Linked DNA regions of Homo sapiens: regions 1, 2, 3, 4 and 6 are each linked to region 5. Evidence: fine-mapped expression QTL. A gene starts in region 5. Each other region holds a variant in brackets. All regions are shown on one strand. Distances are from middle to middle.

Evidence for each region.
Region 1: its variant is fine-mapped to the expression of ZNF592 in whole blood (TOPMed, PIP 0.96).
Region 2: its variant is fine-mapped to the expression of ZNF592 in whole blood (TOPMed, PIP above 0.99).
Region 3: its variant is fine-mapped to the expression of ZNF592 in whole blood (TOPMed, PIP 0.98).
Region 4: its variant is fine-mapped to the expression of ZNF592 in whole blood (TOPMed, PIP above 0.99).
Region 6: its variant is fine-mapped to the expression of ZNF592 in left ventricle (GTEx, PIP 0.98).

Annotation. Positions count from the first base shown.
Region 1 is chr15:84,815,098-84,820,495 of GRCh38, forward strand. ALPK3 (alpha kinase 3) reads left to right here and starts at 2,259. Exons shown (of 14, transcript NM_020778.5): 1 at 2,259-2,498. The coding sequence starts at 2,356. RefSeq lists enhancers at 1,357-1,887, 4,015-4,546, 4,547-5,076. The variant A/G (reference allele first, on the strand shown) is at 3,316.
Region 2 is chr15:84,827,071-84,832,468 of GRCh38, forward strand. It overlaps ALPK3 (alpha kinase 3), which reads left to right. Exons shown (of 14, transcript NM_020778.5): 3 at 414-535. Among named protein-coding and RNA genes, the nearest start is that of ALPK3, 12 kb to the left of the region's middle. RefSeq lists an enhancer at 1-391. The variant G/A (reference allele first, on the strand shown) is at 2,341.
Region 3 is chr15:84,691,744-84,696,743 of GRCh38, forward strand. All of the region lies in intron 1 of SEC11A (SEC11 homolog A, signal peptidase complex subunit), which reads right to left. Among named protein-coding and RNA genes, the nearest start is that of SEC11A, 22 kb to the right of the region's middle. The variant T/C (reference allele first, on the strand shown) is at 2,429.
Region 4 is chr15:84,615,632-84,621,029 of GRCh38, forward strand. ZSCAN2 (zinc finger and SCAN domain containing 2) reads left to right here. Exons shown (of 3, transcript NM_181877.4): 3 at 4,971-5,398. LOC105370947 (a long non-coding RNA gene) reads right to left here and starts at 781. Exons shown (of 4, transcript NR_186225.1): 1 at 628-781. The variant A/C (reference allele first, on the strand shown) is at 3,291.
Region 5 is chr15:84,745,486-84,750,883 of GRCh38, forward strand. ZNF592 (zinc finger protein 592) reads left to right here and starts at 3,107. Exons shown (of 11, transcript NM_014630.3): 1 at 3,107-3,179. RefSeq lists enhancers at 2,259-2,558, 2,631-3,470, 3,999-4,078 and silencers at 2,629-3,048, 3,109-3,598.
Region 6 is chr15:84,960,675-84,966,072 of GRCh38, forward strand. It overlaps a transcript of SLC28A1 not described here. Among named protein-coding and RNA genes, the nearest start is that of PDE8A, 18 kb to the right of the region's middle. The variant C/T (reference allele first, on the strand shown) is at 2,551.

The sequences.
Region 1 (5,398 bases), 70 kb after region 5:
CCTCTATCTGGAATATTCGGTTCCTCCTGCTCCCCACCCATAACAGTCTACTTGGCGAGGACCTACGTAATTTACAAAATCCTTCTCAAGTTTTACTTCCTTCCTTGTAAAACTGTCCTAATACAGGCAGAACTAACCACTGTTTTCTCTGTACTTTGGTGCTTCCCTATACATAGTTTTAGAATTGTATGTTTTCCCCTGCATCGTATGTTGCCTGTCCCACCTATTAGACTGTGAGCTTCTTGCAGGCAGAGACCCTGTGACCCCGGCCTCTAGCACCTGTGCCCTAACCTGACCCATGAGTGTTCACATGCTTTCCCACCCACCCCCTTTTTTTCTCTGCTGCTTGAACCAGCATACACGATTTAAACAAATGAACCAGAACTCCAAGTGGGTTTTCAAATATTTGAAAGACTACCCTGTAGATGACTGAAGATTCTGTGCACCTCCAGAGAGCCAAGAGCAAGAATGAATGGGGACATGTGATCAAGAGATGAATTTGGGATCACTAGGAGAGAACACATTAGTATTGGTCAGGATACTTCTACCAACAGAAGCCTAAATTGGAAATAGCAAAGGGAGAACTTTTTTGGTACACAGATTCCAAGGAAAGTTTGAACTGCCAACCTGCAGGAAGGCCAGGGACAAAGCTGGAACCCAGGAACACCTGAACGAGGGCACCTGAAAGCCACCAGGACCCTGTGTCCTTTGCCTCTGCTTCTCTCTGTGCTAGCTTCCTTATTCCTCACTGTAAACTGGCTTACTCTACAGGGCAGGAAACATGGCTGCTGACAGCTGTGGCCTCACAGCTCAGTTTTCCACCACAGAGGGTCTGGTTTTCTTTCCCAATTCCAGTTAAAAATGTTTTAGAGAAGAACTTTATTGGCACAGCCAGGGTCTATAGTCAGGGAGATTGGGTACCGTGAATAGCCTGGCTTGAGTTTGATGGCAGTCAGCTGAGGCCAGGAGTGGGATCATGTGGGAACAAGGTAGTTGCCATTGGAACCACACGGAGTAGGGGAAAGCCATTTCCAAAAGGAGTAGGGATGGGTGCAGCTTCGAAAACAGAAGGGTTGGACTCCTTTGCTCCCACTTTCTAACAATTACAGCCATTTAGCTTCAGGTACTTTCTGGATGCTCTCAGGAAAATAGGAGAAAGAAGGATGGATAAAAAAGTCTGTGGGCACTTCCGGCCGGGCGCGGTGGCTCACGCCTGTAATCCCAGCACTTTGGGAGGCCCAGGCGGGCGAATCACGAGGTCAGGAGATCGAGACCATCCTGGCTAACACGGTGAAACCCCGTCTCTACTAAAAAATACAAAGAAAAAAATTAGCCGGGCGTGGTGTGGGGCGCCTGTAGTCCCAGCTACTCGGGAGGCTGAGGCAGGAGAATGGCATGAACCCGGGAGGCGGAGGTTGCGGTGAGCCGAGATAGCGCCACTGCACTCCAGCCTGGGCGACAGAGCCAGACTCTGTCTCAAAAAAAAAAAAAGTCTGTGGGGACTTCCAATATTTAGACCAGGTTTCGGCAGTGCTTGGCACTAGTTCTTGGAAATTGTTGCATGATTTGATTATTTTTCTGGGTATCAGGACTCAGCCCATTTCCCCCTCTGGTGCTGAGAAATGGAGGCCGAAGGAGTGATCTAGAAGTGTTAATTGAGCCCCTAATCTATGCTAGTTACTGGGGGTGTTGGGGGAGACAGGAGAGAGATCCCACGGGGTTCCGGCCTCCCAGGGACTCAGGTCACTAATGGAGGTGGCTTGGCTTGTCTATGTGCTGGGCCAACAGCCACTGGCGAGGCAAGGCGAGGGTCAGTCACGGCTGGTGCCAGGAAGAGGGCTGGTTCTTTGGCTCCCTGGTCTCCCGCGGTCTAGCCCAAGCTGGCCAGCGGTTGACCTGGCTCCCCTGGCCCCGGCCAGGCCTCGTGGACCCCTCATATGCCACACGGGACATGAGCAGGCCGGCCGGGAGCCGGGTCCCGGGAGCTCCACGAAGGGGCCTGTCCTCCATGACCAGGACACCCGCTGCGCCTTCCTCCCGAGGCCTCCCGGGCCTCTCCAGACGCGGCGCTACTGCAGACACCAGGGCCGCCAAGGGAGCGGACTCGGAGCCGGCCCTGGGGCGGGCACATGGGCCCCGGCGCCCCCCGGCGTCTCCAAGCCGCGCTGCCCGGGTCGGGCCAGGCCAGGGGAGGGACAGCAGCAGGTGACGACGGCCCGGCCACCGGCTATAAATAGGGGCGCGCGTCAGCCGCGGGCGGGAGCGGCGGCGGCGGGCAGGGGCCCGGGGGCCGGGGCCTGGAGGACAGGCGAGGCAGCGGCGAGTGCGGGGCCGGCGGTCGGGGAGGGCGGTGCCATGGGGTCGCGGAGGGCCCCCAGCCGGGGCTGGGGCGCGGGTGGGCGGTCGGGGGCGGGGGGCGACGGTGAGGACGACGGCCCCGTGTGGATCCCCAGCCCAGCCAGCCGGAGCTACCTGCTCAGCGTGCGGCCCGAGACCAGGTAAGTGGCACCAAGGGGCAGGGCGGCGTCGGGCCGGCGATGCCCTGGGATCAGTCCCTGTGAGGGCGGCCTGGCCCCTGGAGGCCTGGGCTGGGCCTGCGCCCTCGAGCCCTCTCAGCCCCAAGGCCCAGGGCCTGGGGACATGGCCGGGCTGGAATGGCTTTCATAGCCCCTTGTGACCCCTCCTGATCCATGCGCCTCAGGCCTCTGGCAATTCGAGGCTCAAGAGAGGACAAAGGCTCCACTTTGGAGTGATTTCATGGGGTCTGAAGGCTTTCCTTATCTCCCCTGCCCCCTACCCTGCTACTCCCTGGCTTGGGATTCCACAGCTAGCGATAAGGAAAGCCAGAGTGGCTGAAATTCCTCCCTGGCAGGAAGGGAGGGGGAGAGCACTGGTGGGGACAGGGAGAGGGTGCTGGGGGGCTGCCCAGAGTAGGAGCTGCTTAGCTCAGGGTGGGGAGGTTCTCCAGGAAGAAATAAACCTTTGTAAATAAGGTTCCTCTACTGGGCCGAGGACTTGGGTCCTCCCCAGGACCTGAGTGGGGGCTGGTGAGATAGGGGGTGGGATGAGGTACTGTCTGGAGATGTTGGGAATTAAGGACTTGCAGCTCTGAGGGAGCCAAGTGCCCTGTCCAGTTTGGGGAAGTGAAATGCCAAGGGAGGTGTGGAACTGATGAGCCCTTCACTGGTCTTCCAAGAGTTCAAGAGGTGTGGAAGCTTTGTTTTAGCAGCTAGGCCACCCACAGATATAAAGACACAAAGACAATAGACAGGCATCCAGGAAATCAAAGGCACACAGGCACACGTGGACAGGCGC[A/G]TTGCCATGGAGACAGACACTTCCTGCCCCCTGTGGGCAGCTCAGTTTCCCTTCACTTCTGGAGTCTGTTTTCCAAAGGGAAATGTGTTGAGATAGTGGTTGTTTCATAGCCTGAGAACTTGACTTGTGTATTATGCAGAAAACGGCCATTCCTCCAAGAGGCTGTCCAGAGACCTCTTGTTCTCCATTCCTAAAACAGCATAAAAACAGGCATCGAGGACATTCAGGAAAAGTCCTGGGCACTTCCTCGTGAATTGGCTGAGTCCTACTGACCTTGGAGTTGGGAAAGTTCAAATGTAACCGGAACCGGTTTCTGCATAAAACTCGTCAAATGGTGTCACATGTCTGGGGCAGGGCTGAGGACTGATGTTAGTGACTGAGTCAGACTCAACAAGGCCCCTGGCTGCCAGGAAAGAATACCCCTTTTTCTTACTCCTGGCTCTACAGATAAACCAGAATGAAATTTGGACATTTATTCCAGTCCTTAGAGAAGCTGACTCCCTTGTGGGAGCCTCACATTTGTCACAGTGACTTGTCTGGGCTTTGCCTCCTGTGTTTGGCCTTTGTCAATACCAGTGGAACAAACAGAAGAGGCGGAACCAGGGTCCTTCTTGGAGACAGCAGCAATGAAGGAAGGGAGGAAAGAGTGCCTTGAAAACCAGGCAGAATGGGGAGGGCAGGGGATCTGGGCTTTTAGGAAAAGGGCTGGAGAATGGACATAGTGCTGCTGCCTGGCTGAGCAGTTGTATGATAGATAAATGTTAATTGTACACCTCATGAGCACAAAGCTTGTGCCAGCCTGAGAGCTAGAGGCAGGATAGAAGTGGCTGGCTTAAGTCCCTTTGGACCTAAATGGGAATGTTCTTAAAAGGAGTCTCTTTCATCAAGTATCTGGAGGGGGCAGGACAGCAGGAGTGGGAGAAAGCTTTGGACTTTGGGCTGTGTTTTGCCCCTGCAGAGTTTTTTACTGCTCCTGCTGGCTAGCCACAGACCCCTAGAGGTTCTGAGAGACAAGGACAGCCAGATTTATCAGGCATCTGGAAAAGCCTTTGGCCAAAGTGGGGAGAATGTGACTGGGGCTGCAGTGGGGAGTGGAGGAGGCGAGGCAGTTCCTGCTTCTCTAGTAAGGCCTGACCTGTGTTGGAGGGAGCCACCGTACTGTCTGCTGTCCCTCAGAACAGCCTCACTGCCTGTGGGGGTGGGGAGAGCTCCCTAGAGATAGGGAGAAAGACAGTCCCTCGAGAATTTTGCCAGCTATGTTGGCTCCAGCCCAGCTGAGCCCTGACTATGCCAGAGTCCTGACTGAGAGGCAAGTTCTGTCCCCACTCACTCTTGGCTCCAACATCTTCTGGGTCTACCTTCACAAAGATGTGTCATGGAGCTCTCCAGGCATCATTCTCATGGACCCTTGTGAGGAGGGGCTACCCCTGGGAACTGATGGACAGCTGAGCTGATGGACACCAGAGGCCTTGGTGGATGGCCCAGAACCTATCTCCCTATGCACCTCTCTCTGTCCCACAGCTCTGAAAGGGTTTCCAGTCCATGTCGGTGCAAGAATATTTCCAATGCCCACTGGGGTCAGAGGTCTCACATGCAGATAGTCCCACCAAACTGTAGGCCCAGCCCCCAGGTCACCCGGCATCTAGGACCTCACCCCCATAGAACAGTGAGATGTGGGTAGGCTAGAGAAGTTAAGGGGCCAAAATTGAGTAGAAGCAGTTTTGATTTTTTTTTTGAAGCAGTTATGATTAATTAGCTTTTATGGGACACTCAGAAGTTCCAGAAACCCCTGCCCCCTGGATTCTTGGAGGCCCTGGTCCAGGTGGGCTCAGAGAAGTCACAGAACCTATGATGTTACTACAGACAGCTTTGAAACAAGCTCTGCTGTTCAGCATGGGTCAGCCAGGCTGTCTAGGGCTTTTAGGGAACCTGAGGTATCAGGCCAGGACTGTCCAAAGGCCTTTTATGTCCCAGACTAGATGAAAGCCAGGAGGGATGGAGGCCCCCAGCTTTCGTGGTCAGTTCTAGTTTTCCGTAGCCTACTTCACTCTTTTATGTATTTATTATTTTAGTGTGTTTTTTT
Region 2 (5,398 bases), 82 kb after region 5:
AGGCTCTGCTATGCTGGGGGCTCCATCTCTGAGGCTTGACCTACTTATCTGTGTGTCTCCCTCATGCACCAGTGTCCCTGGAGATGAAAGGTGCAGGGTGAAGTAAGGCCCCTCAAACAATGATGGGATGGGACACCTGGGCTTGTAGACTGGCATGCTCAGGAGCCTGGCCCATGGTCAGTAGCTTGCCTATTGTAATGGGTCTGGGCCAGGATTCCATTCAACCCCTTGATACCTGGCCCCAGCCTGGCCAAGAGGCACAAGCTGCCTTGAAGAAAGACTTGCCGGGGTGCTGCAGCTCTGGCCACAGGAAGATGGGCAGGCATGGTAAGACGGAAGCTGCCTTGGACAGGCCAGGCTGTGCTGTTTGTTGTGGGGAAGGCCAGCTCTGAATAGCTCTTTGCCTCTCTTAGGAGCACCTTCTGCTCCATCATTGCTCAGCTCACAGAGGAGACCCAGCCGCTATTTGAGACCACGCTCAAGTCCCGGTCTGTGTCCGAGGACAGCGACGTCAGGTTCACCTGCATCGTCACAGGTAAGGATGCTGTCTGTATGCTCCATGCCAGGGCCTCTGCACAGAGCAGGGTCCAAGGAGGCTGTGAGGACAGGAATGGTGGGGTGGCGGGCTGTGTGCACAAAACTACGTGAGGTGACATTTACTTTCTGAGCTTTCTCTCTAGTTTAACATCCCTGTGTGGGCTGGTGCCCCTTGCTTCCCCCATTCTGGAGCCACATATATACCCTACTCTTCTTCAGAACCTGTCCTCAGTGAAGGTTCCTGACCCTCAGGGATACATCCATGACTAATGGCCTTATTTGTTGCAAGAAAAGAAGTACTCCAATGGAAAGAGATCTTTGAGGCCATCTCCCTGAGTATCCCCATGTTATAGTTGAGTAATTTGAAGGTTGGGAGTCTCAAGCCTGAGAGGAGAATTGCATGTGGTGATTCTGACTACAGACCCTGGAGGCAGACTGCCTGGCTTGGAGTCCTGGCTCATCCCCTTTCCAATGATGTTACTGAGCACGTTATATAACCTCTCAGCTGCCTCATCTGTAAAGTGGGGATAATGATAGGATGCACTTCATAGGGTTATTTGAGACTGAATGAGTTAATACATGCAAAGTGTTTGGAGTAGTACCTTATGTACAGTAAGTACCACATAAGAGTTAGAAACTGACTGTTACTTGCATTTCACTGAGCTTCGTGATGGAATTTGAAGCAACCGTTTGGCAGAATAGGAAGCAGAGTGATACTCCTTGGAAGGGGAAGATAATGGGTGGGAGTGCTGGGAGGGTGGTTCCAGACATTGCCTCTCCCCCAGATCACCCAGTAGAGACTCCAACCTGACCAGCCTCAGGGCCCGCAGGACCCACAAATGGGTACCCACCCCTCCCAGCTGTGCAGCTATTAGATCCCAGGCCCAGGCTCCCTCTGGAGAGCCTGTTGTTTCTGTAAGTCAAGGTCATTCGTGGTTTCCAGCTGTGAATTCTGGCGGACTTGATTACCCCAGCCAGTAAACAGCTTCTCACTTGGGCAGTTCTCACCCTTACTCAACCCTCTGAGCTGCAGACTGAGAACACTCTCTGCTCCGAGCGACATAGGTGTGCATCCCATACCTTTGTATGGCGTATGGTGAATTTCGCAAGTTGTCTGTTTCCATTGTCATTGCATTCTTACAAATCCCTATGAAGTAAGTGCTATTTTTAGTCAAATTTTACCAAGGAGGAAGCTGAGAGAGGCTGATGCGTTGCCAAAGTCCGCAGCACTAGTGAGGGAGACACTGCTTTTGCTCTCCGGCATCTGATGCTGCTTCCCGCCTGCATCTCCTGTGTTACTGTGGCACTTACAGTTTCCTAGAAAAACCCGGTTCTTTCACAGCTTCATGCTTTTGCACATCTCATTTTCTCTATTTAGAAAGTCCTTAATCCTTCTTTTTAAAGAAAATTAAATTTTACTTTGTCAAATAAATATATGCACATAATTAAGACTTCAAATTATACTAAAAGGCATATTTCAAAATACAGCAGTTCACCCCTCTCAATTTGTCTTCCCAGAAGCAACTGTTTTCAGCTTTTAGCTGTTTCTTCTGGCATGTATACATTTCCATCATGCTGAGTACTACGTGAAATTCTTCAGTTTTAGATGTTCTCTATTGTCTTCCTGTTATGGTAGATAAGGAATTAGCTCTTTTATACCATCATTTTCTCTGTTTCCCTGAACTTATCTTCTTCATATAATTATGTTGACAGCAGTTGTGGAACTTTGGTTCTTATCTTCTTAGTTTTAAAAACTTGAAACAAAAGACACACAGCAAAGGAGATAGAACAATTTATTGCAAA[G/A]GAAAAAGAATACTGTAAAAGTTAGGTGCAGAATAGACAGGACACCCTGAGAGAGAGAAGATTCAGCATGGGCTTCTCGTGAGGATGAGACAGCAAAGACTGGTACCTAGGGCGACTCCGTTTCTGTAAGTCTTACATGATTATTCATGAGGAGGTAGGAAGCGGTGTTGCTCCTAAGCATGTTCTGGGTGGTCCTCTGGGTGCACATGCGCAGTAGCTGTACATGCTGTTTATACATCGTGAGTATCTGGGACTACAGGCGCGTGCCACCACACCCATGCTAATGAGACATGCATCTTAAATCTCCACCCAGGGGTGTGCTTTTTACTATTACAATGAGCAAAGGGTGAGTTTGAGGACAGGTAAAATCAAAATGCTCCTGCTCTCTACATGGGAATTCCCTACTGGAGATAGCTTTGCTTGAAAGAACTTTAGAATGCTCATGCTGGGGCTTATTGTGTTGACTGTATAGTCCGGATGGTTGCTGTGTCCTGAGGACATGGTTACTTCCTTGACTCTTATTAATGATAGTTTTCTAAAACTATCCTGCTTCAGTTATATCATAATTTTTGCTTTAATCAACATTTACTGTTTACCTTATTATGCCTATACAATATTATTCATAACTGAACATTGTAGCATACTATGCTTGTATTTTTTCTTTTGTTTTTCCTGAGGTTAGTACTTTCCATAGTTTTTCATTTGTTTCTTTTTTTTGTATCTGTTGCTAATTTTTCTTATACCTCCTAATAGCCTCTTAATACGATATTCTGCAAGGTCAATGACATCAGTAATCTGGCAGTTACTTTCCTTGGAGATATTCCTCTTGGAGCTCTCCATTCTTCTTTTATCTGAACTGCTAGGCTTTTAGGGCCTGATACACAGCTGTTATCCTGGCTCTTCCCTTTGCTTTTCTGTGGATTTAATTCAGCTTCCTGGATCTCATGTCTTCCTTTCTTGGTTTATTTTTTTGCGTTATTGAATACTGCCCCAGTGGTTTCATCAGGTCCTGAAGATGGTGCAGAGGGCATAGTGATGGCAAGGTCTGGACCTTGCTCTCCCTTGAGTCCCTCTGGTCTAATGTGCCTTCGTTTCTCTGCATCTGGTACACAGTTACCATCCTCTAGATTTGGTTTACCTCTCTTCTGTGGTAACTTTCTGCTTTTTGTATTCTACATTTTTTTCTTTCTTGATTTACATTCTTATTTTGGCAGCTTTCTAGAAAGAGTACATGGGAAGTAGATGTTGGATTCCTTGTGTCTGAAAATGTTTTTGTTTGTTTGTTGGTTTGGTTGGTTTGTTTTTTGAGGCAAGATTTCCTCTGTCACCCCGGCTGGAGTGCAGTGGCATGATCACAGATCACTGCAGCCTCAACCGCCCCGGCTCAGGTGATCCTCCTGCCTCAGCCTCCTGAGTAGCTGGGACCACAGGCATGTGCCACCACACCCAACTTATTTTGTGTGTGTGTGTATGTGTGTGTGTGTGATAGAGACTAAGTCCTACTATGTTGCCAGGCTGGTCTCAAACTCCTGGGCTCAAGCAATCCTCCCACCTTGGCCTCCCAAAGTGCTGGGATTATAGTAGGCATGAGTCACTGTGCCCGGCCTCTTTTTTTCTACTTTACTTTTTCTTGCGAATTTGGCTGGGTATAGAATTATAAGCTGAAAATAATTTCCCTTCAGAATTTTAGACATTGTTCCATTATCTTTTTGCTTCCAGTGTTGCTTTTCAGAGTGAGAAGACAGTTTGATCCTAATTCCTTGCATGTGACCAGTTTTTCTCTCTGGAAGCTTGTAAGAGTGTTCTGGTATTTCATAATGATGTATTTCGATATGGGTCTCTTCACCCTGGAACATGCTTAGATGCTTTCAGTTGGAAACGGAGAGCCTTTAGTTCTGGGAAATTTGATTTTATCCTCCTGTTTTCTGTCGTCTTACTTTACAAACTCCTGTTTGGATAGCTGTTCCCCTGGTCGTGGACTTTTATTTTCTTATCCTTTATTCCCCTTTCATCTATTTGTCTTTTGCTCTACTTTCTGGGAGATTTCCTTAGTTTTATCTTTCAACTCTTCTACTGAATTTTAATTTCCAAGGGTTTTAATTTTTGTCATTTTCTGTAGCATCCTGCACTTTTCATGAATGTAGTATCTTTTCTTAGCTCTCTGAGATGCTTATTAATGATAGTTTTCTAAAAGCTTCCTTTTCCTTGCATAGTTTTTCTTCTGTCTTGCTTTTTCTCTGTTTAATTTAATTTTGTCATTAATCTTCGATTGTAGGCTTTCCTCCCATATCTAGAAATCTTTGGCTGTCAGATAATGAGCAAGAGTAGGAGACTTAAAAGCTGATCAGAAGTTCTGAGCAAGGAGGAGGGGCCTGAAAACTTGGCTGTTTACTGTAGGGTGACCTAGGTAGCCACTGTTGGGAACTGCCAAGTAAGTTTCTTTAGTTCCTTCCTCTTGAACTTGCTAGGTTTCCTAGCGAAAGGTTTTCTGGGAGTTATGCAGATCAGAGGGTTGGGTGGGCTCTCAGCATAAGACATTTATTTTATGATATATGGTTATTACATTTTTCTATTTTTCATAGAATAGTCATGCCCTCAGTTATGCTGGCTTACTCTCAGGGCAGATTTTTACATTTCCAAATAATAAACTTCATCTTTGGCTGTGGTGGGGAAGGAGCAGTCATCCAGTGAGATAGAATGGTTGAAGGGTTCCAAAGATTTATTTTTTAAGCATCTTTGAACCTTTCCTCCTTCCTCTTTCTCCCAGTTCCAGAGGTACCAAATTGCCAATTCTTAGGCCCTTTGGGGATTTTCTGGTGTCGAAAGGATAGTTCTCAGTTTTCTCCACTGCTAGCTTAGGGTTGAGCTGTCTTGAGTCTGCTAAGTCAGTTTCCACTTGTCCATCTGCTTTCTAACTTTCAAAATTTTGTTGCTCCTATTACTCTCCTTGCCTGTTCACTTCATCTTTGTGCTTTTACATATGTTGATTAAAAAGTCTTTTCAGGGCAGTTTAGTGAGTTTGAGGGAGGGTATGAAGATAGATGGCATGTTCATTCTG
Region 3 (5,000 bases), 54 kb before region 5:
GGACAACTACAGTTCTGAGACATTCTTTAATACATTATAATAATTATGCCATCAGCAGATCAAAACAGGCCCCCCTTCTTTCACCCAAAGCACCCTGCTCCATTTTGTTTGGTAAAACATCAGTTACATTTATATAACACCATATTATTTTAAGAACATTTCACACAAGTTATTTCATTTGGGCTCCATAATCATTCAGCTTAAATTTATCACTCATGCTACTTACCAGCCAAGAGTAATCTGTCTCTGCTTCTGAACTCCTCTATTACTTTTTCTTTTTCTTTTTTTTTTTTTTTTTGAGATGGAGCCTCGCTCTTGCTCAGTCACCCAGGCTGGAGTACAGTGGTGCCATCTCAGCTCACTGCAACCTCTGTCTCCTGGGTTCAAGAAATTCTCCTGCCTCAGCCTCCCGAGTCGCTGGGACTACAGGCATGCGTCATCACGCCCAGCTAATTTTTTTGAATTTTTAGTAGAAACTGGGTTTCACCATGTTGATCAGGCTGGTCTCGAACTCTTGACCTCAAATGATCTGCCCACCTCCACCTCCTAAAGGGCTGGGATTACAGGCGTGAGTCACCACACCCGGCCCTCTATTACTTTTCTACTATACTTATCCCTTGATAATCATGGGAATAGTTAATGACATTTAACTCTACCTTCTCATTTTACAGTTAAGGAAACTGTCTCGAAAAGAGGAGACTTCACCAAGTCCTAAGCTTATCAGTCACATAGTCAAGACTTGAAGGTCAGCCTTCTTACTAAATTTCCAGTACTCCAACAAACTCTAAAATTCTGTGACTTGAATAAACAGATAAAACACCAGACGGCATTTCAATTTCAAATAAAGAAAATTCAGAACACGTGGAAAAAGGCAAAAAATATTACAAAATCAGATAAGATAAATAATGTGAGCTAACTGTTTTGGGCCAAGGCTGGAAAAAGTATAGAGAGGATGACTAGACACCATGGCAAATAGTTCAAGGAAAAAGCTGGTACTGGAAAGTACTGGGAGAAATCTGAAAAAGCATATATTAAGGTCCAACTATGAAGAAACTTAAACACAGGACTGAAACTGTGGATCTAACAAAATATTAGTAATATAAAGTGAAAAAACAGAAGTTTCAAAAGGTCTTACTCTGTTGCCCAGGCTGGAGTGCAGTGGCACAATCACAGCTCACTGCAGCCTCCAACTCCTGGGCTCAAGCAATCCTCCCACTTCAGCCTCCCGAGTAGCCAGACGTGGTAATTTTTGTATGTTTTGTAGGGATGAGGTTTCGCCATATTGCCCAGGCTGATCTTGAACTCCTGGGCTCAAGCAATCCGCCTACTTCAGCCTCCCAAAGGGCTGGGATTACAGGTATGAGCCACCATGCCTGGTCACTTTTGTTAATATTTGCTTGTGGACATTCTACACAACTGTCCTAGTCTCTTCAAAAATCCAATGTCATTCAATGTCATGGAAAAAAAGGTGGAAGACTGTTCTAGATTAAAAAGTACTAAAGAGATATAACAACCAAATGTAACGCACAAACTTTGGTTTCTTTGTTGTTTTTTTCTTCTCATTCAGTTCTAATAATGCACAAACTTTGGCTGGATCTTGGTTCAAAAAAAAAAAAGCATAAGAAAAAATCTGAATATTTTGGGGTGAACTGGGGAAACTCAAAATATGATTTGAATATTAAATGACATTAGGAAATTCATGTTTTCTTTTTTTCTCTTCTTTTTTTTTTTTGAGACAGGGTCTTGCTCTATCACACAGGCTGGAGTGCAGTGACATGATCTCAGCTCACTGCAACCTCTACCTCCCAAGTTCAAGTGATTCTCGTGCCATAGCCTCCCAAGTAGCTGGGATTACAATGGGCATGCATCATCACGCCCGGCCAATTTTTGTATTTTTAGTAGAGACGGGGTTTCACCATGCTGGCCAGACTGGTCTCAAACTCCTGGCCTCAAGCAATCCACCCGCCTTGACGTCCCAAAGTGCTGGGATGACAGATGTGAGCCACTGTACCCGGCCTCTAATTTTCTTAAATTATGTGATAATGGTGTTGTGGTTATGTGGAATACTATCCTTATCACAGGAGATGCATATTAGTAGTAGTTAGCTAGTAGTTGTAGTTAGGGGTGAATTCTCATATCTGCAACTCATTTTCAAGTGATTCAGCAAAAGAAAATTCTATATATGCACACACACATAAGTATACATAGAACAAATATGGCCAAAATGCTAATAATTGTTGGATCTGTGTGACAGATTACAGGTGTTCCCTGTACTGTTTTTTCAATTTTTTCTGAAAAATTCCAAAAAATGCATAGAAAATATGGAAGAAGCCAGGTGCAGTGGCTCACATCTGTAATCCCAGCAATTTGGGAGGCTGAGGTGGGTGGATCACTTGAGGCCAGAAGTAGGAGACCAGCCTGGCCAACA[T/C]GGCGAAACCCCATCTCTACTAAAAACACAAAAATTAGCTGGGTGTGGTGGGACATGCCTGTAATCCCAGCTACTCAAAAGGCTGAAGCACAAGAATCACTTGAACCCAGGAGGCGGGGGTTGCAGTAAGCTGAGATCGCACCACTGCACTCCAGCCTGGGCAACTGAGCAAGACTCTCTCAAAAAAAAAAAGGAAGAAAATAAAATAAATGTTAGTTGTTATATTTGGGGGTGTAATACTAGGCAATTCTTATTTATTTCATTTTGATCATCTACATTTTCTACTTCCCTTTTTAAATCAATTGTTATTTTTAATCAAAACAGTATACACACATACATACAAGAATATGTAAAAAAAAGCAATATCCTAGCCATGGCAGGCCACCTACATCAACCATTTTCATCTCTTCTAGCTATTCATTCTGGTGTTTACCCCAACCACTCTAAAAACTGTTTGTTTACTTTCATACTAGGGTGTTAATGCATGATGTTCAAAATGTACAATGAGGGGCTAGGCACAGAGACTCATGCCTGTAATCCCAACACTTTGGGAGGCTGAGGTGGGAGGATCACTTGAGCCTAGGAGTTCGAGACCAGAAAGCAAGACCTTTATCTCTACAAAAAAAAATACAAAAAAAGGCCGAGTGCAGTGGCTCACGCCTGTAATCCCAGCACTTTGAGAGGCCGAGGCAGGCGGATCACGAGGTCAGGAGTTTAAGACCAGCCTGGCCAACATGGTGAAACCCCATCTCTACTAAAAATACAAAAATTAGCCAGGCGCAGTGGCGTGTGCCTGTAATTCCAGCTACTCGGGAGGCTGAGGCAGGAGAATTGCTTGAACCCGGGAGGTAGAGGTTGCAGTGAGCTGAGATCGCACCATTGCATTCCAGCCTGGGCGACACAGCAAGACTCCATCTAAAAAAAAAAAAAAAAAAAAAAAAAAAAAGAAGGTAGAGGAAAATTTAGCACACTAAATAGAGATGCGGATGATTAAAAAAAAATATCCAGAGGCTGGGCTCGGTGGCTCACGCATGTAATCCCAGCACTTTGGGAGGCCAAGGCGAGCAGATCACCTGAGGTTGGGAGTTCGAGACTAGCCTGCCCAACATGGAGAAACCCCCATGTCTACTAAAAATACAAAATTAGCTGGGCTTGGTGGCACATGCCTGTAATCTCAGATACTCGGGAGGCTGAGGTGGGAGAATCGCTTGAACCTGGGAGGCGGAGGTTGCAGTGGGCCGAGATCGCACCATTGCACTCCAGCCTGGGCAACAAGGGCGAAACTCCGTCTCAAAAAAAAAAAAAGAAAAATTAGCTGGGTGTGGTGGTGCATGCCTGTAGTCCCAGCTCCTTGGAGGCTGAGGCAGGAGAATCACTTGAACCCAGGACGTAAAGGCTGCAGTGAGCTATGATTGCCCCACTGCATTCTAGCCCAGGTGCCAGAGCAAGACTGTGTCTCAAAAAATAAATACAATTGTGATGAGGAATCCAGCTCTCTTGTACCATTTTCTATTTTCTCCCTACAATTAACCTGTTTTTCCTGCATACTTTTTAAAAACATTTCAAGTTTCATATTCTTCACACTTGATCTTAGCCAAAAGGCCGAGAAGCGATCAAGTTTCATATTCTTATAAATGCACAGTTAATCTCTGAAAAGACAGACAAGAAACTGGAGAAAAGGAACCAGGAGTCAAGGTGGAAGAAAAATATTTTCTGATATACATACTTCATGTTTTTACAGTTTTTACTATATGCAAGTATCACCTGTTCAAAACTAAACTGTTTTGGTTTATTTTTTTAAGTCCACGCTAATGGCCAGAACACTATTCTTCTAGCATTCCAATGAAGCACGGTGTACTCAATCAATGTAATTAATCAATTTCCACAAAAGGAAATATGAACATTTTCGCCGAGACAATTAGAAATATTTGCTGTTCTTTCAGTAATAGAGTGATGTGAGCACATGGATAATCTGAAACCTACTTTGACACTCACATTTACAGGTAAGGAAACTGAGGCACAGAGAAGCTAAGCGACATGCTCATGGCTGCTTGTCTACTGGCTGGCAGAGTAGCACTATTAGAACTCTGGCCTCCTAAATTCTATGTTTTCAAGATGGTGGCTTTTTAAAAGACAAAATGGGTCTTCTTATTCTGAAGGCTGAATTGAAGACGTGGAGTGGGACATGATAGAAGTAGGAAAACTAGCTTCTAAGACACAATTATGTCAACCAGAAGATAAACAGTGAGGAATTCAGTTAAGACTCAAATTTCCAACTTTCTGCACTAAAAATATCACCTACAGTACTGGTTAGGACAATAGATTCTGGGCCCTAATTCAGAACCTCTGAGGAAGGGGTTGTAGGATTCTACAATGTATATAGCTCCATAATCCCTTACTCAAAACCCTTGGGGGTCAGATGTGTTCCAGGATTCAGAATGGGTGTGATTTTGAAAAGGTAATACTTGCATGTACCCTATGTTACATATACTCTTAGCAGGGTTTATGGCAATATCCCAATATCAAACACATTAAGATTTTGGCAGCAAAACAAAAATTCACACTGAAGTAA
Region 4 (5,398 bases), 130 kb before region 5:
CTGTCATTCTTTTTAATCCTTTTAACCTATTCCTTTGTTTCCATTTCCTGTCATTGCTTTCTTATTTTGGTCCTCTTTTTCCCATTCTTGGAATGGTGCTTTCCAAGATGCCTATTCCCATTGCGCTCCTTTTCCTGTTGTCTTCATTTCTCTGGCTGATTTTCCCTCCTTTCCTGAGTTCTTCTAGTGTACATTTAATCTCTTCCTGTTGTCTCACCATCCCTTCTTCAAGCTCTTCTCTGTGGTATTCCTTTATAAAGGCAGTTGCCTCATTTAATTATTTTTATGGATGGAAATGATCACTTTTCTCAGTAATAGTAATTCCTTGGGCCGGGCTCCAGCCTATAATCCCAACACTTTGGGAGGCCGAGGCAGTTGGATCATTTGAGGTCAGGAGTTCGAGACCAGCCTGGCCAACATGGCGACACCCCATCTCTATTAAAAATACAAAAACAATGAGCCGGGGGTGGTGGTGTGCACCTGTAATTCCAGCTTGTCAGGAGGCTGAGGCAGGAGAATCGCTTGAACCTGGGACGCAGAGGTTGCAGTGAGCCAAGATAGTGCCACTGCACTCCAGCCTGGGTGACAGAGTGAGACTTCATCTCAAAAAAATAAATAAATAAATACCTTGGATTAATGTGCGTGGGTCAAAGGCTCTTTCCTTCTCTGCTTTCCAGAAACAGCTTCCTGCGTACATGGCTGCCCTGTGTGATTCCAGTTGCAGCCTCACCTCCTTTGCCTCTCTGAACCAAAGAAGCCAGCCCTGCTTACCCCAGTTCCCAAACACAGGAAGTGATTTTCTGCCTGAGCTTTCTGAGTTCTGTTCCCTCCCACCCCAGGGCTCTCCATGCTTATTCATTGCATTTCCTTCCTCATTGCTTTTACCCAGTCTGCTGTTTTGGGAAGCCCTGACATGTATTTTGGTGCCTACATATTTTATCTTCTGATCTCACTGAAAATAAAATTGGATTTTACTTGTTTTCCTTGTTGCTTCCGAGCTCATTGGAGAGCTAACCAGTTCTGATTTTAAAACAGCAAAAACAGCCTTATTAGCTAATGTTACCTATTCAATTACTAAAATCACCCAAAAAAATGTTTTTGGTCATGTTAGTTTGCTAAAAATTAATCAGGGTCTTGGCCTGCAGGTTCTTCTAGAAGAGAGATGCTGGCAGGGCTCTGTGCTCAAAACTTGCCAAAAAACTGTCTTCCGGCCAGACATGGCAGCTCACGCCTATAATCCCAGCACTCTAGGAGGCGGAAGTGGGCAAATCACCTGAGGTTGGAAGTTCGAGACCTGCCTGACCAACATGGAGAAACCCTGTCTCTACTAAAAATACAAAATTAGCCAGCCATGGTGGCACATGCCTGTAATCCCAGTTAATTGGGAGGCTGAAGCAGGAGAATTGCTTGAACCCGGGGAACAGAGGTTGCGGGGAGCCAGGATCGCGCCACTGCACTCCAGCCTGGGCAACAAGAGCGAAACTCTGTCTCAAAAAAGAAAAAAAAAAAAACTGTCTTCCATGGCCAGGCGCAGTGGCTCACGCCTCTAATCCCAGCACTTTGGGAGGCCAAGGCGGGCGGCTCACTTGAGGTCAGGAGTTTGAGACCAGCCTGGCCAACGTGGTGAAACCCTATCTCTACTAAAAATACAAAAATTAGCCAGGCGTGTTGGCGTGCGCCTGTAGTACCAGCTACTCAGGAGGCTGAGGCAGGAGAATTGCTTGAACCTGGGAGGCGGAGCTTGCCCTGAGCCAGGATCGCGCCACTGCACTCCAGCCTGGGTGACAGAGTGAGACTCCAAAAAAAAAAAGACTGTCTTGCAGGAAGTTGAGGAAACACAGAATTCCTGGTTCTGCCGAGTCAGAGTATACCTTGTGCCCCTTGTGCCTGTATCTGTCCCCTAGTGATATGAGGGGTGGGGCTGGAGGGCAATTCTGTGAACCCACAGATTACCAGCAGCATGTGTCAGTGTAAGCATGGAGTTTAATTATATGCCTGTTTTCAACTTTAAAGGTGATCTTATGGCCAGGCATGGTGGCTTATGCCTATCATCCCAGCACTTTGGGAGGCCAAGGCAGGAGGATCACTCAAGCCCAGGACTTTGAGACTAGCCTGGGCAACATAGCAAAACCCCATCTCTACAAAAATACAAAAAAATTAGCTGGGTGTGGTGGCATACACCTGTGTAATCCCAGCTACCTGCAAGGCTAAGGTGGGAGCGTCACCTGAGCCCAGGAAGTTGAGGCTACAGTGAGCTGCGATCTCGCTACTGTACTACCGCCTCGGTGACAGACTAAGACCTTGTCTCAAAAAAATAAAAAATAAAAATAAATGTGATCTTAAATTGACTGAAGGCAAGAGTGGAGCCCAGGTCCTGCCTGAGAGGGGCATGTCCAATTTTATCATGTTCATATGTAAGAGTTTATATTAACTTACAGAAAATTAATTGAGCATCTAACCTTAAATAAAGTTTTTTAGCTTTAATAATAGAAATGTCACTAGGAGTTCGAGCGCGATAGCTCACACCTGTAATCCCAGCACTATAAGAGGCCCAGGCGGGCGGATCACCTGAGGTCAGGAGTTTGAGACCAGCCTGGCCAACATAGTGAAACCCCATCTCTACTAAAAATACAAAAATTAGCTGGGCGTGGTGGTGTGCGCCTGTAGTCCCAGCTACTCTGGAGGCTGAGGCAGGAGAATCTCTTGAACTCGGGAGGCTGAGGTTGCAGTGAGCCTAGATCTCGCCACTGCAGTCCAGGCTGGGTGACCAAGTGAGACTCTGTCTTAAAAAATAGAAAAAAGTGCAGCTTTTTTTAGGATTGAGGTCAAGAGGGAAATTTCCTCCTCAGGCTCATCAAGAGGACATTGTGTGGTATAAACAATGTCATCAACAACTTCCTGGCAGCATTAATGTTCCCAACAGCCATTAATTTTTTTTTTTTTTTTCGAGACAGAGTCTTGGCTCTGTTGCCCAGGCCGGAGTGCAGTGGCGTGATCTTGGCTCACCAAAGCGTCCACCTCCTGGGTTCTAGTGATTCTCCTGCCTCAGCCTCCCAAGTAGCTGGGATTACAGGTGCCTACCACCATGCCCAGCTAATTTTTTTGTATTTTTATTAGAGACGGGGTTTCACCATGTTGGTCAGGCTGGTCTCAAACTCCTGATCTCAGATAATCTACCCACCTTGGCCTCCCAAAGTGCTAGGATTACAGGCGTGAGCCACCATGCCCGGTGTCAGTCATTAATTTCTAATGACACTTCTTAGAGTGTCAGCCAGGGCTATGAAGCCAAC[A/C]CACTATTCAGTAAACACAGTTCTGCCGGGGGTCAGAACAGTGTGATCCAGGCTCAGCTCTCTGCTGCTTTGGCCTCATCCTCGGGTAGATTTTACAGTCCCTCATCTAAGGAAGGGGCTATGTTCTTCTAGCAGTCCTCCCTAATGATTTCTTTTACTCAAATATTTGGGCACTGGAAGGTTTAACAAGTTCCTGGAAGACATATTACCAATTAAAGATCTATTCATGGCTGGGCGCGGTGGCTCACGCCTGTAATCCCAGCACTTTGGGAGGCCGAGGCGGGCGGATCACAAGGTCAGGAGATCGAGACCATCCTGGCTAACATGGTGAAACCCCGTCTCTCTAAAAATACAAAAAATTAGCCGGGTGTGGTGGTGGGCGCCTGTAGTCCCAGCTACTCGGGAGGCTGAGGCAAGAGAATGGCGTGAACTGGGGAGGCGGAGCTTGCAGTGAGCCGAGATCGCGCCATTGCACTCCAGCCTGGGCCACACAGCGAGACTCCGTCTCAAAAAAAAAAAAAAAATCTATTCATAAGCTCCCACTGCAGACAAATTTGAGGGCTCTTTTAACAATCCAGTTAACTTGCTTCTAGTCATTGGTATACACACCTAGGGTCCTTATTGCACGGGCTCTGTCATCTTTCCTGTGTCTAAATACAAAGTAATGCGGTCATAAACACCAGATACATGTCAATACAAGAAATTATTATATAAGCTCCTTTTGAAAGGAGACTGAGCTTTAGGGAAATGTCTATGGTACCAATAAAAAAACTCATTCATGCACTCATTACATTGAATCAAGCACCAGGCATTATGGTGAGTGTGGGGGTAATTGGGTAGGTACCCTGTTTATGTCCTTTAAAATTCCCACCTGACCTCATTTTCAGATGAAGACACAGGTAGTGGGGACATGGAACCCAAATCTTTAAGGCTTTGAAATTCTGGGTGATTGCCACAAAGATTATGAGGCCTGACAACCAGTCAGAATGAAATAAGCCTGGGTTGGTTTTTTTTTTTTTTTTTTTCCATCAGCTTTTAGGTTCAGGGGTACATGTGCAGGATGTGCAGGTTTGCTACAAAGGTAAATGCGTGCCATGGTGGTTTACTGCACAGGTCATCCCACCACCTAGGTATTAAGCCCAGCATCCATTAGCTATTCTTCCTGATGCTCTCCCTCCCCCTCCCCCACAGGCCCCAGGGTGTGTTATTTCCCTCCATGTGCTCATGTGTTCTCTTCATTCAGCTCCTGCTTATAAGAGAAAAGATGCAGTGTTTGGTTTTCTGTTCCTATGTTAGTTTGCTGAGGATAATGGCTTCCAATTCCATTCATGTCCCTGCAAAAGATATGATCTCATTCTTTTTTTTGGCTGCATAGTATACCATGGTGTATATGTACTACATTTTCTTCATCCAATCTATCATTGATGGGCATTTGGGTTGATTCTATGTCTTTGCTATTGTGAATAGTGCAGCATTGAACATGTGTGTGCATGTATCTTTATAATAGAATGATTTATATTCCTTTGGGTATATTAAACCTGATTATTAAAGGCTTTGAGGATTTTCTAGCCTCTTTGTGTTCACTGGAAGTTTAATTTTTATAAATTTCCCCCTTCGTTTTCTTTTGTCATCATGACAGGGAGTTGAGTAGACATTGTATGTTTTTCTTCATTGTTTCAGATTTTGAGATACAGAGTGAAAATGGGGAGAACTGTAATCAAGACATGTTTGAGAATGAATCACGTAAGATATTCTCGGAAATGCCTGAAGGTGAAAGTGCTCAGCACTCCGATGGGGAAAGTGACTTTGAGAGAGATGCTGGCATCCAGAGGCTCCAGGGACACAGCCCAGGTGAGGACCACGGGGAGGTGGTTTCTCAGGACAGGGAAGTTGGCCAGCTCATAGGCCTGCAGGGCACCTACCTAGGGGAGAAGCCCTACGAATGTCCCCAGTGTGGGAAGACCTTCAGCCGGAAATCCCACCTCATCACACACGAGAGGACCCACACAGGAGAGAAATACTACAAATGTGATGAATGTGGAAAAAGCTTTAGTGATGGTTCAAATTTTAGTAGACACCAAACCACTCACACCGGGGAGAAGCCCTAC
Region 5 (5,398 bases):
GTGCAGTGGTGCAATCTCAGCTCACTGCAACCTCCACCTCCTGGGTTCAAGTGATTCTCATGCTTCAGCCACCCAAGTAGCTGGGACTACAGGCGTGCCACCACGCCTGTACTTTTAGTAGAGATGGGGTTTCACCATGTTGGCCAGGCTGGTCCCATACTCCTGACCTCAGGTGATCCACCAGCCTCGGCCTCCCAAGTAGCTGGAATTACAGGCATGAGCCATCATGCCCAGCCCTAATATTTTTTTCTTTCGAACCCCATAAATATCTTTTAAAAAACACCTTTCTTAAAAATACTTTTAAAAGCTACTTAAAGATACCATTTCCCTGCTTCCAGGAGAAATATACATGCACTATAAAAATAAGAAAATATAGATGTCACAGAAGAAAAGTCTCATTTTAAAATCTACGCATTATACTTATTTATGTATATTTATATATTACCATCTGCTATATCACCTTATAATGTGCTTTTAATTATAAAGATTTCCCACATCATTAAATCTTTTTATTTACCATGATTTTTAATGGCCACAAACTCTAGTTTATTTAACAATCATATAACTATAATATAATAATATAATATTGGGCATTTTTCCTGCTTATAGGTAGGGTGCAATATTTTGAGGTAATATAAATGGACTAATATCTGGGATATGGTGACAAATCTTCCAAAGAGCACAATATTTTTTGCAAACAAGAAATTAGGGCCTGAGATAATTAGGAGAAATGTAAGTTCCCAATGAAACTCTGGAGATATTGGCAGGTATGCTGGGTTTCTTAAGTGGTACACAGGTTTGGAGTCAATTGTACTTAAATTTTAAAGGACAGTGACCCCAGCTGCCCTAAGGATGATTGTAGAGGGTAATCCAGGCAGCTGATCCATGGAAGCATGCATGCCTCCCTACCTCAAAATATTTCAATCTTTATGCACTCTTTAAATCTTGTAGGAAGAGGCGGACTTCTCTGACTTTTTGCTCACCCCTTTCCCCCTTCCCATCTACTTTTCCTTTTCTGGTTTCTTGCACCATCAATTATCCTACATCTATCTGCCATTCTCCCCTCTCAGCTCCTTTAGTTAAGGTCTCCCCACTCAAGTTAGGAAAAAAAAAAAAAAAATCACCGGCCAGGCATGGTGGCTCATGCCTGTAATTCCAACACTTTGGGAGGCTAAGGCAGGTGGATCACCTTAGGTCAGGAGTTCGAGACCAGCCTGGCCAACATGGCGAACCCCCATCTCTACTAAAAATACAAAAATTAGGGCCGGGTGCGGTGGCTCATGCATGTAATCCCAGCACTTTCGGAGGCCGAGGCGGGTGGATGACCTGAGTTCAGGAGTTTGAGACCAGCCTGACCAACATGTTGAAACCCCATTTCCACTAAAAATACAAAATTAGTCAGGCATGGTGGCGCATGCCTGTAATCCCAGCTACTCGGGAGGCTGAGGCAGGAGAATCGGTTGAACCCAGGAGGCAGAGGTTGCAGTGAGCCGAGATTGTGCCATTGCACTGCAGCCTGGGCAACAAGAGCGAAACTCTCTCTCAAAAAAAAAAAAAAAAAAAAAAAAAAAAAAAGCCAGGCATGGTGGCGTGCGCCTGTAATTCCAGCTACTTTGAAGGCTGAGGCTGGATTATCACTGGAACTCTGGAGGTAGAGGTTGCAGTGAGCCGAGACCACGCAATTGCACTACAGCCTGGGCTGCGAGACCGAAACTCCGTCTCCAAAGACAAAAAAAAAAAACAAAAAACAATCAACTTTTCCCTTTACTCTTTTGCAGAGAGGGAGGGTCTCGCTATGTTGCCCAGGCTGAACTCAAACTTCTCGGCTTAAGGGATGCTTTTGCCTCAGCTTCCACAGTAGGACCCAACTTTCTCCTTTACTCTTGGTACTTCTTGAGCTCCAGGCCTACTTTTCTCTCTCTCACTGCCAAACATTTGAAATCATCACCCTTTATTAACTCCATTGCTTCATTGGCTAACATACTCTTTAGACAAGCTCTTCAACTCAGTTCTGTGCCTGGTGCACAGCAGGCTCCGGCTGCATGTTAGTTCCAGCCATCTTGCACATTTGCATCTCCTTCCTGGAGAAGGAATTTCTCCATGGTTAGCAGTGTGTGCTCACTCCTAGTCACCAGGGCCTCATCTCCGTGTTCCCACACCCTGACCTTGCTGCCGCCCTAATGCTGCGGACCCAGTTTCCAGGTACGCCGGGTTCTTGGAAGGTCCTGCCGGTCACCCTCCCAGCCTTCTGCCAGACTCACTGAGTTCTCACCCTGCACAGTCATCGTTTCCCCAGTAACCCTGAGAGATCTCCCAGTCTACCTCTTCGAGGCACCCGTTGCCAGTCCTCCATCTCTGTTTGCCGCGCGTCCCTCGGTTACCCCAGAGGCAACACGTCAGGCTGCCCCGCACCTCCAAGCCTGCGCGAATGTCCTTGTAGCCAGCTATGACCAAACATTTAGGGCGCACCTGAGCGCCAGGCCCACGCCACCCCTGCTTGCTTTCACTTAACAGCCTCGACTAGGCCCCCTATGCGCCAGGTCTCAGTGAAGAGGACGCAGTCCCGGGTCCTGGGCGCTCTTTGCCGGGCGAGACAGCTGCGTAGGCAGATCCTGTTCCTCTAGTGGGCGGCCTCGGCCCCTGCCCCTGCCCCGAGGCGCGTCAGAGGACAAGAGGCCCAGGTCGCTGGCAGCGGCTGCCTGCCCGACCGCACAGGGTGCCTAGCACGGGTGGCGGGGACTGGAGCCGGGCGGGGGCCGGCCGGGGTCGGGGGTCCAGCCCTGAGCGGCGCCGTCCCCGCCCCGCCCCGTCCCGTCGCGTCCCGCCCCGCCCTACCCGCCGCCGCCGTCGTCGCCGTCGCCGGGCCTGCGCCGCGCAGCCCGCCTCGGGCGGGAGGCGGGAGGCGGGAGGCCGGGCCCAGGCCGGGGCAGCCCCTCCACCGCACCGTCCTGGGCCGGTGCCCAGGTCCGAGTCGCCTTCCGCCTGCCCCCCCCCCCCCCCAATCCCCCGCCGCGGCAGCCCCAGCCAGGTCCCGCCGCCAGGCCGGCTCCCGCCCCCGCTCCGCCCCCGGAGCCGCAGCCCCGCCCGCCATCGCCGTCGCCATGTTGTGGCTCCCGCAGCCGGCGCTGGGGACGCGCGCGGCCGAGACTCTGGCCTGCAGTCGCCGCCGCCGCCGCCAGGTAAGCGCCCCCCGCGGGCCGGGCCGAGCGGGGCCTGCGGGCCGGGGCAGCCCCAGCCTGGGCCCGGGAGGATCGCAGCCGGGACCGAGTCCGAGCCCGAGCCGGGGCCCGGCCCTGCAGCCTGGCGGACCCTGGCCGCCGCCAGAGGCGGCAGCCACTTCCCCCGACCGCCGCCTGGCGGGCCCGGGCCGCCACCCCACCCCGCCCCCGGCCGTCGGGCGCCGGCCCCTTCCGCCGCTGCGACCGCCGCTGCGACCGCCGCTCCTTGGCAGGCCGGGCACGCTGCTGTCCTCCGCGCTGGGCGGGACGTGCGGCCGCCCTCGGCGATAGCCGGCGGCCCCCAGCCCGGGCACGGATAACGGTGCCACTTTCTCCCTCTGGGACGGCCTGTCAGCCCGACCGTCCCCGCCGCCCGAAGAGCTGTCGCCGTCACAGGGCAGACACTTCGGGGAACGACCCTCTTTGGCGCTCCTCAGTACTCCCCTCCCCTGAGCCCAAGTTCTGACCCTGAGGAAGGTTTCTCCCGGAGCAGACAGGTATTCCTAGAGCTCCAGAGTTGGGGTCCTCAGGGGTGACCAGGCCTGTTGATCAGGGTGAAAATTGTCTCTCTGCAAGGGCTCTTCCTGCCAACGAGGGGGTTGGCGGGAGGCTCAGTGTGACCTGAGGGAGGACAGGAGAGCGTCTGCTGGACAGATGGCCTCCTGGCCTTGGATCAGCGTTTGTGAGGGGGAGGGGTCCGTATGACCTTAGGTATGCCTGCTCCTGAGTACTGCAGGATTATTGAAGCTGTTTAGGGATTTTAAACCATTTTTTGAGTAGGCCAAAGGTGGCATTAAAGGTCCTGGATTGGAATAAGTCCACAGGCCCACCCAGGGAAGCATGTTTGGCATCCAGGACTAGTCTAGAATAGGACTGGCAGTAGAAGAATGGGACTTGGGGAGTAAGACGGTATTTGGCTTATGGTTTGCCCACTTGAGTTCAGGCCTGTGCTCATGGAGGGCCTGTAGGGTGCTTCTGTCGCGGGTGCAGTGTGGTGCACAGTGTGGCAGAGTGCGGAGGATGTGGACAGACAGATTCCTGGCCTGGTGGATGCTTGGTGGTATTTTAGTAGTCTGTTTCCTCAACCTCACTGTTACGTTACACAGTGAAAGGGGCAGAAGTGTGGTGCTAGTGCGTCCATTTTGATCATTTTCCAATTTTTCAACTAGTTGTGGCTTTGATTCATTAAATAAATTTTTACTGAGCACTTACTCTGTGCCAGGCACTGAGCTAGGTGTTGGGAGTACATTGGTAAGCCAGAAAGATACCATGTTTTAGTTCTTAGCCATTGGGAAAGTCTAATAATTAATAGTCGTGGCCGGGCGCGGTGGCTCGCGCCTGTAATCCCAGCACTTTGGGAGGCCGAGGCGGGTGGATCGCCTGAGATCAGGAGTTCGAGACCAGCCTGACCAACATGGTGAAACCCCGTCTCCACTAAAAAAATACAAAATTAGCCGGGTGTGGTGGTGCATGCCTGTAATCCCAGCTACTTGGGAGGCTGAGGCACGATAATTGCTTGAACCCGGGAGGCGGAGGTTGCAGTGACCTGAGATCGTGCCGTTGCACTCTAGCTTGGGCTACAGAGTGAGACTCCATCTCAAAATAAATAAATAGTCGTGGAAATTTATTCAACAACAAATATTTGTCAACAAATACGTGTTAGGCATTGTTCTAGATGCAGTGAACAAAGAAAGCAAAAATGATTGCCCTTGTGGTGCTTTCCTGGGAGTGGGGGAGAAGACAATAAATAAAATATATAACAAAAATATAGTCTGTTAAAAAGTGTGAAATGCTAAGGAGAAGAAGGAAGCAGGGAAGGAGAATCTGAGGTATCAGGGGTGGTAGTTGAATTTATATTATACGGTGGCCTGGGAAGGCTTCCTAAGAAGGTGTCTTTCGAGTAAAACTTGGAAGTGGTAAACTAATAATTCAAACTATAGTGAATATAAGAAGAGAAAGCTGAAGAGAGGGGTAAGAGACCGATTTGAGTTGGGGGCTCAGGGAAGCCTTCCCTGGGGAAGTGATGTTTAGGCCAAGATCTGAAGGAGGGTTAAGAGTTAACCATGTGTGGAGCTGACTGTAGCAAGGAGGAAGTGAAAGAGGCCTGTGGGGCTGGAGGGGGAAAGGGAGAGGGGAGATTAGTCTGGAGACTAGGGCCAAATTAGAGCAATGGGGCCTTG
Region 6 (5,398 bases), 220 kb after region 5:
AACTCCGCTTCCTGTTTTCAGCCCCACCTTCGCCCTCGCTTTTGCAGTAATAGGTGCCTCCAGTTCCTGAGCTTCACAGTTCAGCTTTATCAGCTCTGCTTCCAAAACTGTGTTAACATTCCTTATCTCTCCTGTTGCTGCTCTCACTCTCTTAGTCCTTATTGCTTTATAAATCTTTTCTTTCTTTCCCCTTTTTTTAGTGGAGTTTTGAGCGACAACAGTGCTAACTACAGGTGCTCTCAATTCAGCATGTTTAACTGGCTGATCCTGAATTGGCTTTGCAGGGACAGAATAGCAGGGTGAGGGAAAGCCTGGGCTTTAGAGCCAGACACATACATGGTTGAGTTCCGGCTCCACTTCTTCACATCCCTGTGTGTCCTCGGGCAAGATAATTTCAGGTTTCTCATCTGTAAAATGAGAATATCACCTCCGAACTCGTAGGGGTGTTGTAAGCATTAACTCTGATAATGCAGGCATTTTTGCCTAGCCTTATCTGAATGCAAGGCCGTGCTCTGAACCATCCAAGCAGCCTGCCTCTTTTGAGAACAGCGTGACTCAGAAAGGGGCTTCTCTTTTCAGCCTGGATTTCAGGATAAAGAAATGCATGGAATAGAGCCGCAGCAACCTCAGGTGACTCATTCTGTGAGTGAGAGAGAATTTTTTTTTTTTTTTTTAGAGACAGGGTATCACTCTGTTGCCCAAGCTGGGGTACAGTGATATAATCATGGCTCACTGTAGCCTCAACCTCCTGGGCTCAAGGGATCTTCCTACCTCAGTCTCCCAAGCAGCTGGGACTACATGTATGTGCCGTCACACCTGGCTAATATTTTATTTTATTTTATTTTTTGTAGAGACGAGGTCTTGCTATGTTGACCAGGCTGGTCTTGAACTCCTGGCCTTAAATGATCCTACTGCCTTGGCTTCCCAAAGTGCTGGGATTACAGGTATGAGCCACTTTGCCTGGCTGAGAGATAAATCTTGATGGTCGTAAGACACTAAGATTCCGAGACTGTTACGGCAGCATCATTTAATGACAGTTAATTAATACAGCAGCAGTTTAAGGTGGTCCAAGTACTCCAAGATGTTGGGTGAGAGAAGCTCATGCCAGGTAAAGTCACTAACTAGGTGAGACAGCCAGGAAGAGTTTGGGATTCACAACGGCAGCACCTACGACAGAGATACTGCCCTTCATCAAACCACTGGGGCAAGATGATTCATTGAAATGTTACCCTGTGCTCATTTGGTTTACATTTGCTCCTCCCCTGGCTCTTTCAAGCAGAGAGTGAGTCCCTTGGTGTTTCCTTGCCTTGGGTATTTCTGGTGGTCAGAGCATAAAAGCTATCGGAAGTTGGTGGGTCTTTCTGTCTTTTGCAATAATCTTGACCTAAATTTTTTTTTAAATTTCTTAATTATTTTTAGAGACAGGGTCTCACTCTGCCACCCAGGCTGGAGTGCAATGGTGTGATCATAGCTCACTGAAGCCTCCAACTCCTGAGCTCAGGTGATCCTCCCGCCTAAGCCTCCAGAGTAGCTGAGACTACAAGTGCTCACCACCATGCCCGGCTAATTTTTCTTTTTTGTAGAGACAGAGATCTCGCTATGTTGCCCAGGCTTGTCTCGAACTCCTGGCCTCAGGTGATCTTCCCTTCTCAGCCTCTCAAAGTATTAGGATTATAGGTGTGAGCCACTGCACCCAGCCTTCGTTGACTCTTTATAGAGACTCTGTAAGGTGTCCTGGAAAGAGAAGAAAGAAAGGGTGGGCCTATGATTTTTTGTTTTTTGAGATAGAGTCTTGCTCCGTCGCCCAGGCTGGAGTATGGTGACATGATCAGGGCTCACTGCAACCTCCATCTCCTGGGCTCGGGTGATCCTTCCACCTCAGCCTCTGGAGTAGCTGGAACTATAGGTGCATGCCACCATGCCTGGCCAATGTTTTGTATTTTTAGTAGAGATGGGGTTTCACCATGTTGCCCAGGCTGGTCTCAAACTCCTAGTGCTGGGATTACAGATGTGAGTCACTGCACCAGGCCAAGGGTGGGCCTTTGAGAGCAGGAAGAAGGGAGAGGAAAAGATTTTTACCCCAGAAGGGAAAGGGGCAGAGTGTGACTAGGGCTGGGGGTAGGGAGGAAAGGTCTCAAACCTTGACTCTAGGCAGTGTCCAAAGGTGACAAGGCCTTAGAGGACATGGCTGCCTGGTACACTCAGGGAGAGTGGATCTGAGCACAGAGCTTTCGCCCCTCCCTCACAATTCCCACATTCCAAGGGTGACTCCAAATCAGCAGAGCCACCAAGCCTGAGGTGCCACAAGGCTGGGATGATGGATGTTCTGCATTTGCTAGTGTGACCAGTGGAGCCAGCCTGACGCCTCAGCACTGCCTAAGACCCTGGGACCTTGGCAAAATCTTGAGAATGGGGGAGGGAGACTCAACGATATGCCTGAGATTGAATTTCTTGCCAGCTCAGTGGGATAGTGGCTTAGAGTCAGATTTAAATTGAATTAGAAAAAATCAAGAAACAGGCCAAACCACTCCAGCCTTGCAATCCCTCGGG[C/T]TATCCCTAGCCACACCCCTTACTCTCATGCTCACCAACAAGCAGTGCCTACCACCACTGGATGCCCCATGTGACCCATAGCTGAGGATCTTTATACACCCTCTCCCCAGGAGTGGGCATCCACTTGTGTTTCCCTGGACAGGGAGCTTCCAATCTTCCATCCTGAGGTCCTGCTAGAATGGGCTGTTAGAATATTCCCTCACTAGATAGAGGGGTGGGGAAGCAGGAGTCCAGTTTCAGAAGCAGGGAAGGGACTACAGTCATAGCGAGTGGTGGACACGTGGCGGAGGGTGGGACACCCTTTCACAAAGTGGCCCATCACACCACAACACAGTATGGGACAGGGCTGGCTTCTCTTCAGCTCTGGCATGGCCAGGGAGGGTACCTACCTGGGGTCCAGCTGCCCCCCCGAGCCTGTCTATCAGCCATTGTACACCAGGCCAGTCCATGATGGGGTTCACCCAGGATGAGACCTGGACAGCAGCTGAGCCATGCAGAGCAAGTGGGTGGTTAAGAGGCAGATGGTCCAGTTGGTGCTTTCAGGCAAAGTGCCAGCTCCTCATCATGGCTCATGAGGATGCTTAGATCCAGCCCCTGATGACCCCCTATTTCACCTCTAGCCATTTCCTAGCACAGCGCCTCCTCTGTCCTAGCTCCAGCCTCACTGAGCTGCTTTCAGTCCCTTGAAGGAGTTGCACTCTCCTTCCTCTCGGCTCTTCCACAGGCTGCTCCAGACGCTTGACCACTCCTTTCTTTCATGTACCTAATTCCTACTCATCCCTCAGGACCCAATGTGGCTGTCTTCTCTAGGAAGCCATCTGAACTTATAAGTTGAGTTAGGAGTCTGTTCTGGACCTCCCACAGCACCCTGATTCTCCTGTCTTGGCCCCTGTCATACCTTGTGAAGTCTTGTTTAATCATCTATCTCATACATGTCAGTATGCTTCTGGGGGAAGGAAATGTGTCCATCTTGTTTAAAACAGTATCTTTAGGGCTTGATGTCTAGTGAGGGAGGAAGGGAAGGGGAAGGAAACGATAAGGGCATGGGAAGGAAGGATGGAAGGAAGGAGGGAAGGAAGAAGAAAAGAAGAGAAACAGGGAAGGAGGCAAGGAAGACATTGAAGGAAGATTGCCCACTCCTTTCAGGGCACTCATTGCCCCAACAGATCTTCCCAGCAGGAGCAGCTGCACAGAGATCACCTATTCCTTCCTCTCACTCAGTAGGAGACATGCTCTTTATTGGTTAGAATGATTGACATTACCCAATATCAATTGCAAGTAACAGTGCATTCAATAGAAAATGGTTTACATGATGTGAGATTTTTAATATCTCACATAGTAGCAACTCCAGGGGTAAGTGGCTCCAGGGTTAATCCAGGCATCAATGATGGTACCAGGGACCCTGGCTCTTGCCACCTCTCTGCTCTGTTATTTTGATTTTATCCTTGGATTGACCCCTTGTGGTCACAAGATGGCTGCTGAAGTTCTGGACATTACACCCAGACAGGGCCATGACTAGTAGAAAAGGCTTTTCCTCCCATGCATTCATTAGATGGGAAGAATCTTTCCACAGAAGCCCCAGCAGATATTTCTTTCTATCCTGGGATTAAGCCAGAGGCCCATGCTGTAGCTGCAAGGGAGGCTGGAAAAGCAAGTGCGTCTGCAGCTGGAAGCAGACTGCCAACATAGGAGCAGGAGGGAATGATTGATGCTTCCCTCTTTGTCTTACCTGTAAGGCTTGAGACTTCCTTGCCTTTGAAGATCCTCAGTATGGAATGCCAGTGCTTGGACCTTGATATGGTTTGGCTGTGTCCCCACACCCAAATCTCATCTTGAATTATAGTTCCCATAACCCCACGTGTCATGGGAGGGACCTGGTGGAAGGTAATTGAGTATTGGGGGTGGTTACCCCCATGCTGTTCTCATGATAGTGAGTTGAGTGAGTTCTCACAAAATCTGATGGTTTTATAAAGGGCCTTTCCCCCTTTGCTTGGCACTTCTCCTTCCTCCCACCATGTACAGAAAAATGTGTTTGCTTCCCCTTCTGCCATGATTGTAAGTTTCCTGAGGCCTCCCCAGCCCTGCAGAACTGTGAGTCAATTAAACCTCTTCCCTTTATAAATTACCCAGTCTCAAGTATTTCTTCATAGCAGTATGAGAATGGACTAATACAGACCTGCAAGGCAGTTTTTTGGTGGCAATACATGGAAGTCTCCTCTCTGGATTTAGGCTGGAGACTGCTTGTTGATTCCAATAGCCATTTTCCCTTCTTTTCTTATAAGTGTATAGTTGGATATATGGCCACCCAGAATAAAATCAACATGTCCTGGCCTCCTTTGCGGTGGATGGGGGCACATAACTAAGTTTTGGCCAATGAGATGAAAGCAACATGCTATATAACTTCCAAAGTATACCTAAGAGAGGGCCATGCACTTCTTCTAGGATGACCAACTTGTCCTGGTTTGCCTGAGACTTTACTGGTTTTAGCACTAAGAGTCCTGTATCCTAGGAAATCTCTCGGTCCTGGGCAAGCCAGGATAGTTGGTCACATTCTCCATCCCTTCCTCTTTCCTTCTGGCTAGAATGTAAGTGTGATAGAGGCCATTGTGGAGCCCCAAGTGGAAGCCACATACTGAGGATCTCACAAGATTAGGCTGTTAAGCTGGAGGGAGGCGGGGAGGGGGGGGAAATATTAGGCTGCTGGAATGGTGCAGGCACATTGATTTTAGGTTACTCAAATTGTTTCTATAGAGAGGGGTCCTGAGCCTAGATCTCTGATTAATCCCTTTAGGTGTCAGTGATCTGAGAGAAAAACAAACTTCTATGTTGTTGGTATTTTTTAAATGTA